Linked DNA regions of Homo sapiens. The protein of the gene in region 1 interacts with the protein of each later gene in a biochemical or structural test. Each region holds a gene or a part of one and is shown on either strand. Other genes may lie near its edges.

Evidence for each region.
Region 2: the proteins of CDK5R1 (region 1) and CDK5RAP3 form a complex in vitro, tested with the Homo sapiens proteins (one study listed by BioGRID).
Region 3: of the proteins of CDK5R1 (region 1) and ODF1, one has a biochemical effect on the other in vitro, tested with the Homo sapiens proteins (one study listed by BioGRID).
Region 4: the proteins of CDK5R1 (region 1) and SEPTIN5 form a complex in vitro, tested with the Homo sapiens proteins (one study listed by BioGRID).
Region 5: the proteins of CDK5R1 (region 1) and CDK16 form a complex in vitro, tested with the Homo sapiens proteins (one study listed by BioGRID).

Annotation. Positions count from the first base shown.
Region 1 is NC_000017.11:32,485,614-32,489,792, reverse strand, and holds the start of CDK5R1 (cyclin-dependent kinase 5 activator 1), read right to left. Parts: upstream 2,801-4,179; 5' UTR 2,631-2,800; intron 2,318-2,630; 5' UTR 2,173-2,317; coding exon 1,249-2,172; 3' UTR 1-1,248. UniProt on the Homo sapiens protein: p35 is a neuron specific activator of CDK5. The complex p35/CDK5 is required for neurite outgrowth and cortical lamination. Involved in dendritic spine morphogenesis by mediating the EFNA1-EPHA4 signaling. Activator of TPKII.
Region 2 is NC_000017.11:47,969,894-47,973,912, forward strand, and holds the start of CDK5RAP3 (CDK5 regulatory subunit-associated protein 3), read left to right. Parts: upstream 1-1,219; 5' UTR 1,220-1,253; coding exon 1,254-1,259; intron 1,260-1,468; coding exon 1,469-1,514; intron 1,515-3,625; coding exon 3,626-3,757; exon of another isoform or gene 3,758-3,800; intron 3,801-4,019. UniProt on the Homo sapiens protein: Substrate adapter of E3 ligase complexes mediating ufmylation, the covalent attachment of the ubiquitin-like modifier UFM1 to substrate proteins, and which is involved in various processes, such as ribosome recycling and reticulophagy (also called ER-phagy).
Region 3 is NC_000008.11:102,550,286-102,554,392, forward strand, and holds the start of ODF1 (outer dense fiber protein 1), read left to right. Parts: upstream 1-1,303; 5' UTR 1,304-1,442; coding exon 1,443-1,762; intron 1,763-4,107.
Region 4 is NC_000022.11:19,713,147-19,717,308, reverse strand, and holds the start of SEPTIN5 (septin-5), read right to left. Parts: upstream 2,807-4,162; 5' UTR 2,721-2,806; coding exon 2,678-2,720; intron 2,613-2,677; exon of another isoform or gene 2,529-2,612; coding exon 2,518-2,528; exon of another isoform or gene 2,514-2,517; intron 90-2,513; exon of another isoform or gene 1-89. UniProt on the Homo sapiens protein: Filament-forming cytoskeletal GTPase. May play a role in cytokinesis. May play a role in platelet secretion.
Region 5 is NC_000023.11:47,217,385-47,221,487, reverse strand, and holds the start of CDK16 (cyclin-dependent kinase 16), read right to left. Parts: upstream 2,808-4,103; 5' UTR 2,383-2,807; intron 1,204-2,382; exon of another isoform or gene 1-1,203. UniProt on the Homo sapiens protein: Protein kinase that plays a role in vesicle-mediated transport processes and exocytosis. Regulates GH1 release by brain neurons. Phosphorylates NSF, and thereby regulates NSF oligomerization. Required for normal spermatogenesis.

The DNA.
Region 1 (4,179 bases):
AGCCACCAATGCGGGAGAATTAGAAAGAAAATCAATAAAGTACACATTTGTGTTTTTACAGCCAGTAGGGTAAGGTGGAAACCAAAACCAGCAGCTGCAAATGATCAGTTGTAGAAATCAGCAGGCTTCCAGAGCAATCAGGAGTCTCACTCCCCGTCTTGTAATTGTCTCCAAGATCCGGCTGTCTCACTGGTCCTTGCTGGGCAAGGCTTCCTCTTTAGAAGAAACTCAACTGTTTAGAAACAGCTTTAAATTAACGGGTGGGGGTGGGGTCACCACATCGCCTTCCCCCCAGCTCTGCAGGACAAATGTCATGTGCACCAGCAAGAGGCCTTAGCCCTTAGGTGGGCACCGGCTTGGTCTCAAGGTATGGCATCCCTCACCTTGCCCAGAAGGCAGGCGTTGCTAATGGGCACCTGCAGCTGTCCTGGCATTTGCCACAGGGTGACTGCACTACATTATTCAAAAGAAAAACTCACCCAGGAAAGCTGTCCCCAGCTTCACCCCACCTCTTTAGCTGGGACCCAAATTGAGAGAAATTAATGAGTCAAACCAGCTCATCGGCCAATACCACCAACGTGGCTGGGAGCAGCAGACAAGGGGGTAGGGGGGCGAGTTCCATTTCTCCACTAAAGAAAAGCCCTTCTCCCTAAAAAAAGAAAACAGCAAATCAGGGCGGTGTGTGGTCAAACGACCAGACACAATCTTTCCACTAGACCCGCTCAGCTTCGCCTCGCCTAGATTGAAGATGTCCCCGGGTGGCGGGGATCTTGCCTCACGACCCCACTGGCAGCTCAGTTAGGGTGGCTGGCTCCAGGAGCCTCTGGGAGAGTGAATAACTCCACACAGGAGCCAGAAAAGGGCCTCCAACCAGAAACCCCAATTCCTCCCTGGGCCAGGCAGCCAGAGGCCCCTCTCTAGCTCCATACAGGGTGCAGCCGGCAGCCTTGCCTACCCTGGACCCAGCAAGGGCACAGGCGGCAGGGGCAGGTCAGTCCTTTGAGTTCCCCAAAGTGGGAGGTCAGTGGCCTGGGTGGCTCTGAATACATCTTCTGGGTTTTGCGCAAGGCTCGTGAGTTCAAAAGTGCCCAGAGTTCTTGGCAGGGATGAAAAAAACCCCAGGGAGAGACTGTGGGAAAGGTGAGGCCCTTGGTGGCTTTGCTAGACACATACTGTACACAAAACTGATTTAATAATAAATTCTTAAAAATGCATTGAATCCTTGAGCCATGACGCAGGCTACAGTGCTCACCGATCCAGGCCTAGGAGGAGCCGCTTCTTGTCCTCCTGGCCGCTCTCGTTCTTCAGGTCGGAGAAGACCTGTGTGAAGTAGTGTGGGTCGGCATTTATCTGCAGCATCTTTGAGCTCATGAGGTTGATGACAGAGAGGCAACGGTCCCAAAAGGCCTCCTTGCAGCTCTCCACCAGGAAGGGCTTGAGCGGGTAGGAGATCTCGTTGCCCATGTAGGAGTAGGAGAGGTACAGGCATGTCAGCAGGACGGCCTGGAGCTCGTGATCCGAGCCCACCTCGGAGGAGATAACATCCCTGCAGAGCATGTAGAGGAAGACCACGTTGGCCGGCGTGATGAAGCCCTGGTCCTGCCAGCCCTGCAGAAGCAGCGAGCGGTCCACGCTGCGCAGCCAGAGCACGGGGTCCGTGGGGGACAGGTGCTTCAGGCGGTAGCACCGGCGGCAGAGAAACTCACCCAGGCAGCGAAGCAGCTCACTGGTGGACGCCTGGACGATGACCCGTTTGGGCGTCCCTGCGGAGGTGACGGCAGGGTGAGGGGCTTTCTTGACTGAGGAGGAGCCCCCGGTCTGGGAACCCGAGAGCTGGCTGGCCGGGGGTGCAGGCGGCTGGGCCGGTGGGGGCTGGGCGAATGTGGACAGGTTGGCGCACGACAGCGACTTCTTCAGGTTCTCATTGTTGAGGTGCGTGATGTTGTTCTGGTAGCTGCTGTTGGGCTGCACCTTCTTGGAGTTCTTCTTCTTGGCCGACACGGCCACGATTCTCTTCCAAGGCAGCACGGAGATGATGGAGTGGCGCTTCAGGTTCTTGTCCTTGGCGTTCTTGCTGTTCTGTACGGCCGTATAGTGGCCCACGGTGGCCGCGCCATCCTCAAACAGCGTGGCCTTCCGGTAGCTGGGAGACAGGGACAGCACCGTGCCCATGGTGCTGCTGCGCGCCGGGCGGGGGCTCGCGCCCCTGCGCGCCCAGCCTGCCGGCCGGAGGGATAAAACCGCTCACCGAGCCTGCGGCGGCCCCGGAGAGGAGGCGGGGGCGCTCCCGGGAAGCGTGCTGCCCCCTTGGATCTGCCTGGAAAACAAGATGGTTCTTAGCGCCAGGCTGGGCTCCGCGCCGCGCCCCTGCGCCCCTGCGCCCCTCCGCCCCGCGCCTCGGCGCACCCCGCCGCCCCAGTCCCGGGCCCTACCCGCGCCCCCGCGACGCAGCCTCGCCGCCTCCACTGCAGCACCCCCGCCCGCCGCCGCCGCTGCGGTCCCCAGGCGCAGCCGGGAGGGGCCCGGTCGCCGACGGAGGCGGCCGAGGACCCCCGCCTGGACACCCCGCACGGGCGCGACCCCGGTCTCCGCTCCCCAGGGCCAAGGACGGCCGCCCAGCGCAGGCTTACCCGGCAGGCGGCAGCTCCTGCGCTCCGCGCCCTCCGCAATGCGCGCCGCGGCCCCGCCGCCGCGGTCCCGGCGCTCGGCGGCGCTCGGGGGCGCTCGGCGGGGATCGGCTGGGCTCGCGCTCGGCGGCGGCGACGGCGGCGGCGGCGGCGGCGGCAGCTAGGGAGCTTCTGTCCAAGGTTCTGCAGGCACCGCAGCCCCGCCCCCCGCTCGGCCGCCCGCACCTTCGCCGCCGCCGCCGCGCTCCCGCTCCCGCTCCCGCTTCCGGCGCGCGCCTCAGCGCCCTCCCTCGCGGGGCGCGCGCGCCGTCCACGCTCCGGCCTGGTCTCGCCGGGGAGTCGCGGCCGTTGGTGTCCTCAGCTCGAGCCGCGCACGGTGCGGGTAGGACGCGGCAACGAGCGGGAGGCACCTCTACGCGCCGGGCCCCATCTAGGAGCCGGACTCCGCGGCTGCGGCGGGACACGCGGCGTCGGCCCGCCCCGCCCCTCGGGGCCGCCCCTCCCGCACAGCTCGCCGCCCGCTCCGCGCCGCCGCCCAACAGCAGCCCGGCCGCCGGAGAGTCCTCGGCGCCCGCGCAACCCAACTCTGCCGACGCGGGGCGGGCGCCGAGCAGGGCGGAGCCGAGGGCCGACCCCGCCCGCGTCCCGCCCAGACACGTGCTGCCTTTGTTCCCGCCGCGGCGCCCGCAGCTGCCGGCCGCGGGGGCACTCTCGGCCGAGTCCCTGCCCTGGCAGCGCGCGGCCCGCCCTCTCTGAGGCTGCCGCCCTGGCCTGGTGAGGAGCCCTCCGCCGAGGCCAGGGTCCGGAGCTCCCTCCTTCCACCTGACATCCCCGTCCCTGTGGAAAGCAGCCAGGGAGCGCGGGGAAGAAGGCCCTGGGCGGGGAGAGGCGACGCCTTTACTGAGGCCTCCCGAGTGCCACGCGCACCTCGAGTGGACAGTCCAATCGGTTCTGGCCACCCCTCCGGGGCCTCCGTTCCCTCATCATGGGTAGATGACCGCGGCCGAAGTGGGCCTCAGAGATCCAAGCCAGAGAAGCGTGGCCCGTAGCCAAGCCTGAGCCCGTCACAAATATGACCTCTAAGTTCCCACTCGCCCTCTTATTTGTCATATTAAAGCTGAAGCAACTGCCCCTCCGGCCAGCTTTCTGACCCTCTTAAACGTTTTCAATTCTAAGTATGTATAATTTGAGAACTTGATGCTAGCGAAATTGAGTAAAATTCTGTTTCTGAAAGCTGTTCCTGTCAGATGTGAATCCAGATCCTTCACAAAGGCTGTTGTTCATTTACTATTTTACCTTGTTTCTGGAGATCGAGTCAAAACTGACCACAAACCTGGGAAACAGGAAACTTAAGCCCTGTCTTAATCCAGATTATCTCTGGACCTAGAGATGAGGGAGTGGCTCTCCAGAGGAGAGGATGCCACCCAGTTACCTGACCACTCCAGCCGACTAGGCTTTCACCAGCCCTGTCAACTGTCCTAGGGGGAACAGAAAGGGAATCTGGCATCATTCAAAATGGTGCAATCAAGGCAGAAAGTGCTGGGTTTTGTTT
Region 2 (4,019 bases), about 15 Mb from region 1:
CTCAGGTGGTGGTTCCCACCTAATCACCTAGGTGTCATCCTTAGTGTCTCTCTCCTCCACCCAAACAGCCAATCAATTGCCAAGTCCTATACATTTTCCTCCTAAATATTCCTCAGATCCAGCCCTTCCCCTTCCTCCTCATATCTTGTGTCCCAGCTCAGGCTATAATCCCTCGATAACAACCTCCTTCCAGCCTCCTTGTCCCCAGTCTTATCTCCCATGCATCCATCATCCCAGCAGCCTATCTGTACAGGTTCCTCCCTGCCTCAAACCCCTTCTGTGATTCCTCTGTCTGAAGGGATGAAGTCCAAGTTCCTTAATAAGTCTCCCTTTGATATGGCCTTTCCACCCTTACAGCCTCTCCTCTAGCCACTCGCTGCCTCAAACCATCTACGGTATAGAGGTTGGCCTGCCCGCGGAGCCGACTTCATCTTGAAATTCTTCATCATTTTGTAACAAGCAGCTGTGCATTTCCATTTTGCACTGGACCTCACAAATTACGTTGCCCGTCCTGCCTGCCTGTTGTTGCTTGCACCCCTCTTGCAGTTTGTGGCCACCTAAGCTTTGTCTGTGTAGTCTCCTCCACCTAAAACTCCTCTTCCCACATCACCCAGCTATCTTCAGCTCTTCGTTTAGACTCAATGTAGGTGTTCTCTTTGGGACGTCTCACCGACTCTCTTCCTTCCCCTTCCCTGCCCTAATCGCCCAACACGTTGCAGGTGCTCAACCATGTCTATTAGAGAAACTGAATGAGGAGGCAAAGCATGACAAGTGCCACAAGAGACCTGCACACTGCTCTGGATGGTAAAGCGACGCAAGGAGGGAAGAAGGTATTTGCAACGGCCTCCCAGATCGGCGCTAGGACCCCGCCAGCAGACGTCTCAATCTGCGTGGAGAAGACCCAGTGCCCGCCAGGGGAAGCGGCTGCCAGGCTGGGCTCTCGAGCGCCGCCTGTCGCAATCCCACGGCCGCTGCAGCGCACCCCCTCCCGTCCCCTGCCCTGAGCCCGCCTCGCGTCTCCAATTGGCTGTCTCCATTCTCCCGCCCCTCCCGAGCTCAGCCATTCGGAGCCTGGGGTGGGCGGGGCTTGAGGCCTGAGTGGAGCGTAAACCCTGATTGGCTGTACGGAAGGCGGCGACGTGGCCGAAGGATGCCCGTTTGTGTCTAAACGGAGGCTCGGCCACAACGCCACTGGATTGGTGGTAGGGCGGGGCGGGCCACAGTCTCCAGCCTGAAGCGGAAGTGGAGGAAAGATGGAGGTGTGGGGACAGGAGCTGGGTGTGCTGGGGACTGGCCGCGGACCCCTAACCTGTGTCTCCGGTCTCCCTCCGGAAGCGGCTCAACCCAGCCCATCGCTCTGGCCCCGTTCTGGCCCTGCAGGGTGGTGGTTGGGACGTTGAAATGAGCGCGCGAGTGGTACGTCCTCTCTCCGCGCTCACGCCCCCCTCCTCACCGTGTTTCCCGCCAGGACCATCAGCACGTGCCCATCGACATCCAGACCAGCAAGCTGCTCGGTAGGAGGGGGCGCCACCGCGCAGCTGGCTGTCGGGGGGAGGCCTGTGCGTTGCCCCCTGTGTCCAATAGCCGGGAGCTCTGACCCCTGAAAGCCTGAGTCGAGATGCTGACCACTGGCCTCGTTCTATGCCCCATCTGTGGCCAGACCTGCTTCCCTGATAGCAGCGGGAACGAACCATATGTACAGTCTGTTTGACCTGCGTTTTCTCCTTTAATAACATATGTTATCGTATCATTCAGGGACAGGATAAATGACTCGCTTTAAAAACAGTCAACCACTGCCGGGCGCGGTGGCTCATGCCTGTAATCCCAGCACTTTGGGAGGCCGAGGTGGGCGAATCACCTGAGGTCAGGAGTTCGAGACCAGCCTGACCAACATGGAGAAACCTTGTCTCCATGTCTCCATGACTAAAAATACAAAAAAATAAAAATAAAAAGTAGCCGGGCATGGGAGCACATGCCTGTAATCCCAGCTACTCGGGAGGCTGAGGTGGGAGAATTGCTTGAACCCCGGAGGCAGAGGTTGCGGTGAGCAGAGATCTCACTATTGCACTCCAGCCTGGGCAACGAGAGCGAAACTCCATCTCAAAAAGAAGACAAAAAACAGTCAACCACTAAGTGGCACATCTGAATTGGAACTTAAGTCTGTCTGACCCACTGTCCATGCCTTTTGCATTATGCCAGGAAAAAAAAAAAAAACCTCATTTAAAAAGCTTCCACCTCCCCCTTGATTTTAGGAGGAAGAGGGACCTAAGACCCAGTTGCAAATGAAAACCTTTTAGTGTCCAGGCCATCTCCAGGTTGTCTGTATGGGGCTTACATACTTCCTCCCCAGTTCATAGTCAGGGAAGGCCTCTTCATCTGATCACACAGCTCCTGGCATTTTAAAATGCTTATTGGATTCATGGATTTGATGCCAATCTTGTCCTTAAGATGGTGTCTGTTTGACTACCCCAGTCCGTTGCTTCTAGTTCTGTGACATCAACAGAATTTTTCTTTCTGAAAACTTTACAGGAATATAGCAGAGAGAGTATAACTGATACTAGTGTGGGACCCCAGCGTTTGACCGGTTGGCAGAGTTCAAGTTCTGAATTCACCACTCTGTAGTGCCATTTAGTCAGTCCTGCTTGGTGGTCACGGGGGAAGCTTCTTTAGCCTCCCTTCAGATTTGTACTGGCCCTTCAGCCCATGTGCAGTCTTGGTGTGTGAGCTTGTTCTTGGTCATGAAAAGGACCAATAAAATGACCACCATTCATTGAGGGTTTTTTTTTGTACCAGGTGCTGTTTTAGGCACTTGACATGATAAAAATGATCACTGTCATTTTTTGAGTCCTTGCCGTGTCTCAGGCACACTGTTCAGTGTTTTACCTGCATTCCCTTTTCTAGTCAGTGTCTTATTATTCCCCATTTTACATGTGGGAAAACTGAGGCACAGAATAGTAGACTTGCTCAAGAAACTTGATAACGAGAACCCAGGACCATCTGACCACAAAGCTCAGCTCTTAGCTCTCACTGAGGAAATATGCATGGCTCTGAAGCCACAAATCTGGGCCCAGACTTTGAGAGGTCAGTCCCATTGGTATTCACATGTACAGGGTGGTACTTCACTGTTCACAACAGAGTCATGTTATCTAGTCCTTAGGGCGCTGTAGGTATTAGGGGCTTTGCAGCTGTTCATTCATCCAGTACTTGGCATAACCATCTTGTATTTTCCATTGTCATGGTTAACCCCAGCCCTGAGGAAATGGAAGTTGAGCAGCATCCTCTTGTCAGGAAGAAAGATATAATTACCCATAGAAGCAAAAATATTATGGGGAATTGAGAATGGTCAAAAGTGGCACTTTCAGGACCAATTTAAACTTTTTGTTATCCCTGTGTTGAGGCAATTGCTCTATAAAAATCACACTGCTAATGAAGTCAGATTGTCAGAGCCTGGTTTAGCCCCAGGCATCTCTTTGGGCTTGTCTTTATTCCCATCTTCCCATGACCCCCATACTTTAACCAATGTAAAGAAAACTTTTAGACTAATTTCAGTGTATTTCACTCGAATTAGTGATGGAATTTTGGTGATGTGAATGGGAATGCTCTAATTTGGGTGCTTCTCATGTAGATTGGCTGGTGGACAGAAGGCACTGCAGCCTGAAATGGCAGAGTCTGGTGCTGACGATCCGCGAGAAGATCAATGCTGCCATCCAGGACATGCCAGAGAGCGAAGAGATCGCCCAGCTGCTGTCTGGGTCCTGTGAGTGCTTAGGGGCTGTCACTGGAGTCCCCTCTTTGCTGAGGTAGTATGTATCAGCTGAGCTACTCTCTTGTTATTTAGCCACCAGGGCTGGCCTTTAGAGAGGGAGCGATTTTTATTTGAGGTATAGATGCTGGCTTCTTCCACTATGAAATGATTTAGGGAAAAGCTACACACTAAAGTTACTGGCAGTATATTATACATGAATCAGCCACCTGCAGTGCCCAGAGTAGGTGAAGAAGATACTTTAGTTCTCGAAATC
Region 3 (4,107 bases), on another chromosome or scaffold:
TGAGAGGACAGAGAAGACTTTTAAGGTGAGTGGGATGATGGGTGGGGAAGGTTGAGGAATGACAGATTTCTATATGAAAGTCGCTGTGGCTACAATGTGGAAAATGGATTAGATGGGGCCTGGGCAGAGGTGGGGGAAGGCTTTCCCATTGGCTTCCTCCTTGCCATCCCCATAGCCATGATCCCCAGTCCAGATTTTTGTTGTCTCTTCTTGTCTTGCAGCAGAAAACCCCACTACTATTGTCCCTAGCAACTTACCTTCAGTGTGGCTGTCTCACTTCTGACAAAAGAAAAGAAAATCAACAATCCTTCGTTGGGCTCAAAATAAAGTTCAGAGTCCTTAGTCTGGCTACAGGTCCCTTCAAACCTGGCCCTTGTCTCCCTCACCAGTGTCACATCCAACCACTTGTCATCAATACCTGAGCTCTAGTTCATACAAGGGAGACTCGAGAGCTGGACCGCAGTTTGAGGTGAAAGGACCAGAGGAGTAGAGGCACCGAGAGCCAAATCTGAGGCCGAATCAGAGGTCTAGGATGTTAACTGAACAGAAAGTAAAGGAAACTGGCCGAAGCGGGGGTTTCAGGCAGTTGGCTTCCAGCATCTTCAGGCGGTTGGCTACAAGAACATCAAAGACCAACATTTGGGAAGCACTCAGGGACAAGACATCCGGAGGCTTGGATGCAAGACCAAAGGTGTAGTTGATGGGAGGTAGTTCCCCAGGACAGGCCCCCGAGGACTGACAGATGGGAGCTTAAGGACAGGACCCCCAACCAGTAGAGAAATGAGGTTCCCGAACAGCCATGACCACAGCTGGCGCAGAATGGGCAGGACTCAGAGACTTGTAACTCAGAAGGTCAAGGACAATGGCTGACTTGAGGATGACTTGGTAGGAGGAGAATGATGAGAACATTCTTTATATTCTACCTGTCTGGAGACAGAATGAATTCTAGAACAAAAGGAGCAAGGCCAAGCTTCCAATCAAGGCTAGAGCTAGAAGGTCATGGAGAAAGGCGTGGGCAGCTCCTGCCTTCGCCTGCACCAAGTTCAACAAACACACAGTCATAGCCATGGCTGGTCCCCAGAGCACACACAAGGCAAGGATGTTAGTGGCCAGCCCCATGCACCCCGATGAGCTATGCTCGCTTGGGAGACCCATCCTCCTTGAAGGTGAGTGAAATCTCAACACGAGTATGGTTCTGAGAGTAGCTCTGTAACTCTGAGGATGGTCTCTGGAGACCATGACTGTGTACAGTTCACATGGTAACCAGAAGACTATGACATACTTCAGAAGGTGGTGAGGTCATAGAACACAAGCTTTAAAGTAAGTGAATCATGTGTGCCTCATTTATTTTTAAAAGCAACTTCTGAGAAGGGCTTAGAACAAATTTTTTCCCGGAGTGCCATTTCCCAAAGGTACTCACAGAACAATCAGGTGTGACCATAATGGCTGCACTGAGTTGTCTCTTGGACAGTGTCAGAAGGGACATAAAGAAGGTGGACAGAGAACTAAGGCAACTGAGATGCATCGACGAATTTAGCACACGGTGCCTGTGCGACTTGTATATGCACCCCTATTGCTGCTGTGACTTGCACCCATATCCGTACTGCTTGTGCTATTCCAAGCGATCACGCTCTTGCGGCCTGTGTGATCTCTACCCATGTTGCCTGTGTGATTATAAGCTTTACTGTCTGCGACCATCTCTCAGAAGTTTGGAGAGGAAAGCCATCAGAGCCATAGAAGATGAGAAGCGAGAGCTTGCCAAGTAAAATAACTTATTTTTAAATTTTTATAGTCGGTATATTAGCCTTATAAGTTGGAATAAGGAAAAATATGTGACAATCAATAGTTGAACAAAGATTAAAAGGGTTCAGGATAATGACCCTGGTGACTTAGGAAAGATTTAAGGAAAGAAGAGTAAATGAGTCCATGATGGGAATTGTAGGGTTCTCAAAAGACAATGTAATGATGTCGATTGGCAAGGTCGTCGGTGGTTTATAGCAAGAATGCCAGTATGATAAATAATGCGGCTTTAATGAAGGGAAGAAACAGGGGGTGTCATTAAAAAGCCATTGGAAGCAGCAAACTAAACATTTTTCCTGGTTATGAGTAAAGTGATTTGAGTATATTTGGACTTACAGAAATGACTACAGGAGAAGTAATAATAATAGATCAAATCCTTAATGTGTGCCAGAGGCTTTACAAGCAGGAGAGCAAATTGAACAGTAGAGGCATTGCCTTGGTTTTGTGGGAATATCATTCTCCTATCCCCCCACTCCAGGCAAAGACTTACCTTGTATCTGGAATTAGGTCTATCATGTTGGCCTCCCCTCTAACTCTAGCAAAGGTCTTGCAAATAAACTATGGCACTGAGTTGTAGCTTTCAGGATAGACTTGAAAGGCTTTTTAATTGAATTGGGTAATTAAAAAGAGTCAGTTTTTTAAAAAAATTTTTGTTTTAGATTATATTTTCTTTTTGCCTGGAGAAAACTTTCCTTTTCTAACTTTTTACATATGCCATTTAGTCTGTTACTGTTGATGAAAAAGATGGTTGAAAGTGCTGTCCCTGGTTAAATAAATAATACATTCATGCACTGGAATAATAAGTAAATATAGAAAGGATTGATGAAGCATCTTACATATTGATGTATTAAGTCAAACAAGCAAAGTGCAGAAAAACTGATAGACAGATGACAGATAGATAGATAGATAGATAGATAGATAGATAGATAGATGATAGATAGATAGAGTCTCTTGACAACAGTGACAGTGATGTTTCTTTGGAAAAAGCAATAGGAGGCCGGGTGCATTGGCTCATGCCAGTAATCCCAGCACTTTGGGAGGCGGAGGCGGGCAGATCACCTGAGCTCAAGAGTTCGAGACCAGCCTGGCTAACATGGTGAAACCCCATCTCTACTAAATACAAAAAAAAAAAAAAAAAAAAATTAGCCAAGCGTAGTGGCACGTGCCTGTAATCCCAGCTACTCGTGAGACTGAGGCAGGAGAATCACTTGAACCCAGGAGGCAGAGGTTGCAGTGAGCCAAGATTGCACCACTACACTCCAGACCGGGTGACAAAGTGAGACTGTCTCAAAAAAAAAAAAAAAAAAAGGATAATTATTGTCTAGGTCACCAGCCACCAATGGTCAGGAATGAACCTCCCTCATAGCCTGGGAGCTTTCACCTGTAAATTCATCTATACTCTTTGAACCAATGTTTGTTTTTATTTCTTAGGGCATCAAGTCACATAAATTGCTCACACTGTGAGGCAGGGACTCTTTTTAAAATATTTGGTCCAAGTTAAGGTTTCCTTGTGAGCAGATCAGTATCCACTCTCCTCCTACTTTTGGATACTTGAATACCCTTGTCCAGGTCTTTCCAGCCTCTGTCTTCCTGGCTTCTCTCCTATCCCCAGACTCTACCAATTAAAATCCCTCTCTGTCCTGTGCTGTCTACTCTCTTGATGCCTCTTTCAGAAGCCTTGTTTCTTGGCATGCAGTAGAAACAGCTTCAAGCTTAATTCTCGGCAGTGTAGTTTAGGCAAGAGGTAATGTTTTCTCTGGTTTGTGATGCTCTTCCTGACAGCGTCTGGGTCTTTGCCTATTTTTTCTCTGCCTGCAGGCAATATGTGAAGCTGGTGATGTCTTTACATTAATTTCTGGATCTCGGAAATGATAACTCCAAGTCCATTGTAGAAATGACCTCAGGCTTGTCCGCTTTATCTCTTCCAATTCACACCACCTTGTGAAATTTCTATGCTCTATTTCTGACAACTTGACATTTCACTCTCCAGAAGGGCTTAGTGTCACTTGCAAACCTAAATATTCAATTTTCCTGAATATGGGTGAAAATGTTAAACCCTGATTCTAGCCTCAGTCCCAGAAGGCCCCCAGTGTAGTATTTTTTCTTCTAGTGCAGTGCCTTTTATTCTTATCTCTAAGCTAGCGCCTGATCCATAACTAAATAGATGCAGAAATATCATGTTGATTCAATTTTTTAAAACAATCTTTGGTGTGAAAGCTTGCCCAAGGCTTTTTGAGTTTAGAATTCATATTCACATGACCTTCCTCCCCTTTAAAGAATGCAAGGGGGTTGGTTAGTTATGACATA
Region 4 (4,162 bases), on another chromosome or scaffold:
CCCAACAGGCAAGCCCAGCGGAGCAGGACATGGGGCCTGGAAAGGTTCCAGGGTAGGACTGGTCAGGCCAAGCCCCTGCACATTAGAACATTAGAAGCTGGAGGCCCCAACCCCACCCCACCCCACCCGCCACCAGCCCTCCCTTAGGCTCTCCTGGCTGAGAGACCTCCTCCACTTCCTGTCCAGGCCCTGGTCCTGTTGTGGGGCCTGGACCACTGGCACCTGGGGAGGAGGGGCAGGCCCACAGCTGGGAACAGGAGAGCCTTTCATCCCAGGGAAAGGGGGCAGCTCCAGGCCCCCCAGCTCTACCAGTGCATCCCTCAGTCCTTGCTGCCAGAAAGCCTCCTCACTGGCCCCAGCCTTCCATGGCCCTGACCTGCAGGAAGCCTCTAGGCTGAGTCCCACCCAGTTTCCAACTGAGGGTCCACACCTCGAAGCCCAGCACCCACCCAGACAGGCTGGCATCTCAGGCCCAGGGCATCTCCAGGAAGACAGACAGCCCTGGGCCTAGGCCTCAGGCTAGGAGGTGTCTAACAGAGTGTGTGGCTCTCAGACTGCCTGCCTCAGTTTCCCCATTGGTAAGGCACAGCCTCTGGGGAGGCCCAGGTCAGGAGGGCAAGAATCTCACTCTCAGCGTTCAACCCACCTGCCCTGCCACCCACTGGGGCCCAGTCAGGGCCTGTGGATTCCCTGGGGGAGCCTCAAGGAAGGGGCCGTACCTGCCACCCCCTTTCTCTGGTCCCCAAGTGACAAAAGATACTCCCAGGGCTTCCTGAGCCATATGACACAGCTGCGCCCATCTCCTCCCAATGCCTGAGCCTCTCTGGCACTTCCATTCTTAGAATCACCCGAGTCAGCTCTGGGAGCAGCAGCCAGGGCCAAGAGATCACCGGTGCTGCCTGTGAGGAGGTGGGGGCACAGAGCGTAGTGACGGAACTCCCCCAATGCCTCTACAGCCCCCTTTCAAAGAGCAAAAAGAATGCTTGGACAGGCTGAGGCTCAGCAACGGTGGTAGCAGGGAAGCTGCCATGTGCTTCCAGCTCCCCCAGACCCACTGGTCACCCAGACACCTGGCCTGGCTCCTGCTCCGGGGCTCCCTTCCTTGGCCACACAGTGCCTTCTTCCTCTGGGCTTGGAGGCCTGGGAGGCCTGGGATGGGGTGAGGTGGACTCCCGGTTGACCTCAAACGATGGGCACCTCAGCAGGAGGGGGTCCCCACCCTGCAGTAATGGGCAAGAGAACCTGGCTGCACCCAACAGCAGTGGCTGGAGCCCAGGGTCTCAGAGTGCCCTTGGGTCAAGCTGGGGACACCTGCAGGCACAGGAGAAGCCTCAGGGGCCTGGCCTCCTGGCTTTCCCAGCCTCAGTTCCTTCCATTTCCCTCAAACAGTAGCCTGACGCATGTGTCCCTGCATCTCAGGCTTTGTCTGACCTGCTGTGATGGGGAGGCAGCTCCCAGCCTGGCTCCCCAAGGGGCCCCTCCCAGAGAGCCTCATCCACCTCTGGGTGGGGTGTGTCCCTTCCAGGAGAATGGCACTGGTCAGCCAGTGACTCCCCCAGCTCCTGGCCCCCCTGCCCGCCCTCCTGCCCTGCCTGCTGCACCCTGGGCCAGGACTCTGGAGTTCCACTCAGCATCCATGGCTCCTGAGAAACTCCATCCCTGATGGGGGCTGCCAGTGCCACCCTGGTGCCAGAATTGGGCTCTTCTTTTTTCCTCCAAAGATGGCTGAGCTCAAGCCAGAGAGGACACCAGCAGGCTTTCCCCAGCCCCCCCAGCCCACCTGGTTGTCAGCCCCCGCCCCACCCCAGGGGCCTCACAGCATTGTTTAACCCTGAGCTCGGCTGGGTTTCACCCAGGTGCCTAGACCAGCCTCCTGTCCAGTCTTGCTTTCCTGGAGGGTGGGGCCAACCCTTTTGAGAAGCCACAAGCCTATTTGTACCCACAGGGTCCCAGGACCCATCTGGGCACCCAGAATGACTCAGACCAGACCCTGGGGGTTCCCAATCTGGGGAAGAGTCCCTGTTGCAGACCTGAACACTCAAATTTGTGTATGGGGAGGGAAAGGGGCATGAAGGTGCAGGGGAGGTGGGTGGTGACCACAGGCCCTCTGCTGTAGGGCTGTTCAGGGACTGTGCTGGCTGATGGAGCCTGACTCCCCTCCCCCAGCGTGGCCTGCCACGACCATGGCCTCACCCAGGACCCCCAGCTCATGGCCTACAGGCCAGGTCAGCAGGAGATGCTGGCACTGGCCCTGTGGGAGGGGGACACTCTGCCCATCCCCCCATCCTGGGGAGGGGCGCAGGGTCCCTGCTGTGCGGGTCCGGGGACCAGGGCCCCCACTCCTCTCCTCTGAAGCCCCAGGCGCGGCGGCACTGCCCGGCTGACAATCGGTGATCGCGACAGGGCTGGGTGAGGGCCGGCGGGGGCGGGGTCGCGCCTGGGCGCCCAAGGCGCTAGTGTCACAATGGGTGACAGCCGGCCGGGTCTCCCGGCGGGGGAGCGGCGCTGCGCACGTACCTGCTTGTCCTCTGCGGGGTCGGGGTCGGGGTCGAGTCCGGGTCCGGTTCCGAGCGGGTCCGGGCCGGCGGGCGGGGGAGAGACGGAGAGACACGGTGAGAGGCGCGCGGGCGGCGGGGACAAAGGCGCGCGCGGGCACGCGGGCAGGCGCTGGGCTCACCTGGGGTCGCCAGCTTGCTCTTGTACCGCAGGCCTGTGCTCATGGTGGCCGCCGGCGGGGGACGTGCGGGGCGGGCTCGCGGGCGGGGCGCGACGACAAGCGGCGGAGGCCGAGGCCGGGCTGCGGGGTGAGCGGCCCCTCCGCGCCGCCGCCGCCGCCGCCCGCTCCGCCCGCGCGCCCGGCAGCCAATCGGCGCCCGCCGCGCCCACGCGCGACCCAGGGCGGCCCGGGGGGGCGGGGACCCAGGTCCCCCACCATGGACCCGAGACCACGGCCTCGGGGCGACGCCCTCGCCTCCTACAGCCCTGGCCGCGCCCGGGGTCACCCGACCAGACCCGCGCCGCCCCCGCCCTGCACGGCTGTTCCTGCCGGCCTCCTCCCCGCCACCTCCCCGGTGCCGCAGCCCAGGCCCAGCCTTACGCTCCCCCCGCCCTCGCTGGGACCCGGGTCCATGCCGGTCCTCGGACCATCCGTCCGGTGGCCCTTCTCTAAAGCCTGCCCTGGCTTTCCGGGCCAGACCCTGCACGCTCCGCCCCACCCCGCCGAGGTCAGCAGGGATGGTCCTGGCGCGGCTGGCCAGTGCCCAGCATTGCCCCTGCTGACCGCTCGGTGCTGCGCAGACCTGCTCTGCGAGCAGACGCACCTGGCAGGCTGTAGGCCACAGGCTTTTGGGCAGTGGTCCGGCCTCTCTCTTCCTGGGCTGTAAAATGGGATTATTTGTGAAGAGGAGTGATCTGAGGTGTCTGGCAGGACCGGCCCTGACCGTCTCACCCCAGCTCTGCGCCTGCTTCTCTGCTGACCCATAGGCTGTGGGGATGCTCCAGGCAGACCCGATCCCACCCTGCGGAGAAGGCTTGTAGGGGACCGAGGGGCACTGTGAAGGCAGGGCCAGGGCCTGCACCCCATTTACAGAGGGGGAAGTTCAGGCCCTAATCTTCAGTGAGTCAGCCAGACTCAGTGACTGAGAGCAAGTCTCTCCGGTCATTTGTGTCACTATCACATTCCCAGGTGTCCTCCGCCTGGACTTTCCCAAAGTGTCCCCAGGCGGCATCTCTGAAGGCTTTGGGGCTGTCAGGCTTGCGGTCACCACCTCCCCAGGTGAGGGCCCCCTTGTATGGAGATGTCTCCTGCACCCCGTATAGACAGTACCTCCACAGCCAGGGAATCCGCCTCTGCTCCCCACCCGTCCTGTGCCCCTTGGTCCCTCTGCTGGCCCGTGGGCTCCCTGGGTGGAGGGGGGTGTCGCTAGGGCCTTTCCATCTCTGAATCACCAGCACCCAGCACGGTAAGTGAAAAATTCATGTAAGCCGCGTCTTTGTTCCACAGTCCTTGCTCTGCTGCATTCTGTGGCCAGAGCGCCGTTGACCATAACCCTGCTCTGGGTCTAGAACTCTAACCAGTGTAGGGATCCCCCACAGTCCCAACCTCTCATCCAAGATGTGTTTGGAACTCAGGCTTTTTTGTATACATCATACATTATGTGGC
Region 5 (4,103 bases), on another chromosome or scaffold:
GCTCTGGAGTTCAGTTTTTTGGGATTTTAGGAAGATGGGGTGTAAAATCTGTATATCACATAACACTCCCAGAAAGGGGGATGGGGGTCTCAGACATGCCCCTGTGAACAGAGATAATTGAACATTTATACGCAAGGAAACTTTTAAATATCATTTCAGTTGAATGAGCTTTTTAGATTTCAAAAAAGGAGGGAGCAAGAAACTGGACATAAAACCTTACCCCAAAAAAGGCACATGTCCTGCCTGACCCTTCCTGATCCCCAAAGACATACACCCATCCTCAGACTACTCTCATACTCAAGGATACTCAACACACCAACCACTAAGGACTTGGTCATCGCACCCTATGTCCTGATCCCCATTAATACACGCTAGACCCTCAAGGAGGCCTCACTACATCTTACCTGCTATTATCTCATATACCCATCAGCATTCAAAGCCCTAACACATAACATACCGCCCTGAACTCTGTCAGCACACACTTAGCCTCCTCTAAGTAACTCTTGCCACCACATTCTTGGGCCCCTCCCTGGCCTAGCTGCTTGTTACCTTCTCCATAGTACTGACTCCCCTCATTAACGTACTGTTCCCCCTACATGATTCTGACCTCTATTAACATGCACTTGGGGTACTCTATAGCTGACCCACATTAGCACTCACTGGACCTTCTTCATGCTGCTCTGAATGCTATTAACATAAAGTGAACCTTACAGATAGATCTCTAACCAGTGTTACCCACACTCAGGCCCCTTCACAGCTACGACCATCCTTAACACACATTCCAGTCCTTCCACTGTCCTGTCCCCTCTGTCAGCACAAACTGAGTCTTCACTCAGGCCTGATTTCTATTAGCACACGCCGGGCCTCACACAGTCCTGCCTCCCCATTAGTGCACCCTGAACCCTTACTCAGCCCTATTCCGCAGGGACACACAAACACACTGTTCTACCATGGCCTGACCCTCATTAGTGCACACAGGTCTCATTCAGCCCTGACTCCCATTAGCACACACTTCAGCCCTCCCTAGCTGTAATCCACTTTAGCACACCGAGATCATCACACATTCCTGTCCTCTATTGCTCTCTGCTCAGAGATATCTCCACAGATATAATCCTTGTTGGTTCACACTTAGATCCCTTCATGAAAGCCCTGATCCCCCTTATTACACACTAGATCCCCTCCGCAGCCCTACCCCCGAGTAGCACCCCCTGGAACCTCAACATACTCTGGTCCTCCGCGGACACAAGGGCACAATCTTCACAAGGTTCTGATGCTTATTAGCATATTCCAGACTTCACACAGCTGACTCTCGAAATGGCACACATTGAAGTGCCTCTATGTCTCTAAACCCACATTAGCAACCACCAGTACTTCTATTACCCTGCTCCTTCCTAGTGTGCCCTCGAGACTCACATTCCCTGTGTCCATGGACACACTCACACCTCACATCACCTTTACCCTTCGTCCACTAAGCCTCTGACAGTGCTAAGACACTTCCCCACCACTCCTTCCTGGGCCCAGACAGACACGCAATTCTCATCTCCTTTAGGCCAGGCTCAGGTATTCCACAGTCCTTCCTCCGTTAGATACCCTCAGGTCCTTCCTCCACTCTGCCCTCATTAGCATATACTGGGTCCCAAACTACCTAGACCTTCGAGGCCACAGGCATACACCCTCTACAGCCATGACCCCCACTGGCGCACACACCACACTCGAGTCCTTCAGCTACCTGCCCTCCACAAGCACACACTGCATTCTCACACACTGCAGGCCCCACGGACAGACACGCAGTATTAACACCATCCAGGGCCTCATCGCCACGCACCAGGCCTCAGAGCCCTGACCCCACCAACACACGTTCTGGTACCTGTGCCACCCTGTCCCCCATGAACACACACCGGGCCTCTCTGCGGACATAATCCCTATGAGCATGTCTTAGAACTTCCTCGACACCCTACCCCCCGTTATACACCCTCGGGTCCCTCACCCGCTCCGCACCCCGCCCTCCTTCCACAAGCACACACGGGGCCTTGAACCTTACACGACTTATTGGCGTGAGGCTTACTGCCACATGCTCCGACCCCCATCAGCAACCCCCCCAAGTCTTTCACCCCATTGTCACCCATTTCCACACCCTTTGGTCCTTTGACTCCCCCAGGTCCCCATTAGCACCCACAGCACTACCCAACCCCAGCTCCCAGGACAGGCCCAGGGCGGGGCCAAGGTCAGGGAGGCCCCAAATGACCCCCCGCCCCGGTGCATTCTGGGAAATTCGCCGGGGGTGGGGGCACCTGCCAGCCCCGCAGCCCAGACCCCTGGGCACCGCCCGAGGTGGGTTCTGAAGGAGGAGGGGCAGCCTCCACGCCTCGGGGACGCGCTCACCGGCGGGGGCGCGCGAGCAACCTCAGAGCCGCGGGGCCGGCGCGGCGGCGCCTGGGGCGGCGGCCCGGGATGAGGCCGCGCGACCTCCTTCTCCTCCTGTTCGCCGCAGGCGCCCGTCCCAGTAGTCTTCAGCCATGGTTGCTGGGCCCGGGCCGCCGCCGGCTGAGGAGGAGGAGGCGGCGGCGGCGGCGGTGGCTGAGGCGGAGGCGGCGTCCCGCTCAGCCGGCCATGAGCTTGGCCGCTGCGGGCGATGCCCCCGGACTCGTTGGCGCCGGCTTGAATCCGAGTGCTCACGGCGGCTCGCGGCACAGAGCGGTCTGATCGCGGAGTGGCGGCGGATCCCAGGGCCGAACAGCCAACGGCCCAACCGCCGCGCGCGCCGCGCTCCGCGCATGCGCACGCAGGCGCTCGGAAGGGTGAAGTGGAAAGGAGGGGACTCACCTCGGACTGCATGTACCAAAGGACCCGTCCGCAGCGGGAGGGGACGCGGCCATCGCGAGCCCAGAGGAGGATGCGGCGCCAAGCCGGAGACGGCACCAGGGAGAACTGTGGAGGCTGTTTAGTACTCAGTTCCGATCTTGGCAGAAGTTTGCTAGCGCCTAGGTGAGCAGTGGCCAGTAACCTGGCGCGTCAATCACCACTCGTTCCCCCTACTCGGTCTCACTTGGTACATCCCCATGGTGGCAAACGGGACTTTTGCAAGGAGGAAAAAAGACAAATGAAGCACTCAGTTCTAGTCCCTTGAGGTGCTTGGGGAGGAAGGCATTTTAAAGGTTCGCGAGAAGATGACTTTTCGAGGAGAGGCAGCCTGAAGAGTTATTGGCCTTTACCACCTTAGCTAGGACGGCCTATCCCCGCCCAACTGCCCCCTCCACCGCTACCTCATTCCCGTAGTGAACGTGTGCAGCCCCGCCCTTTGAGGTTGTCGCCCAGCCAATCTGATTTGCTCTCTGTGGCGAGGCCGAGCAAGAATAAAGGGCGTGGCTGACTGAAGAGGCGTGATTTCGCTCTCTACCCGACTCCGCACGCCTCCGCCCAGGTTTCATAGGTTTTCACCGTCGGCGGGGGTGGGGTCTCCTTTTTGTTCTGAGCTCCTCCTTCGCTATAGGCCGAATATTCCGCAAGGTGATTGGTCATAATTGCGCTCAATCGAGTCTCGTCCCGCCTTTAGCCCGCCCTCCATCTCATACAGCGGGCCTCCCGGGGTGGAACCCAGGCTGAGAAAGAAGGAAAGAGGCGGATCCTTAGAGGCGCAGGAGCCGCTACTGCGCATGCTTGGAACTTCGAGCGGGGCGGAGCCTCTTTTCTGCCTCACACGAGTATTTGCATAGGCGCCGTGCGTTGGATTTTCCTGCCACCTCTCTTGCCCGGCACAGCCCCTCCCGTGCCTCCCCTCACTCTGAGGGTTTTTTGTTTTGTTTTGATGTCAGTCAACACAAGTAGAACACTCCGCGGTTTTATTTCCATTTTATTTATTGGGCGCATGTTGTGTGCCAAGTACTACCAGGCCGACCTAATCCTTCACTTCCTTCTGCCTGGAAAACCACACTATCCCCAAGTCCAGCTCAAAGGGCTGCAACCTCCAGCAGGCCTTCTGGCACATCCTTACACTACCCTGTTCCAAGGCAGCCTCCCCGCCTCTTCCGGGCTTCCCTTTATGGCAGCCTTGATCACAGCAGTTAGGATTTTCAGTAAGGTTTACATTAGTGAGATTTCCCGGG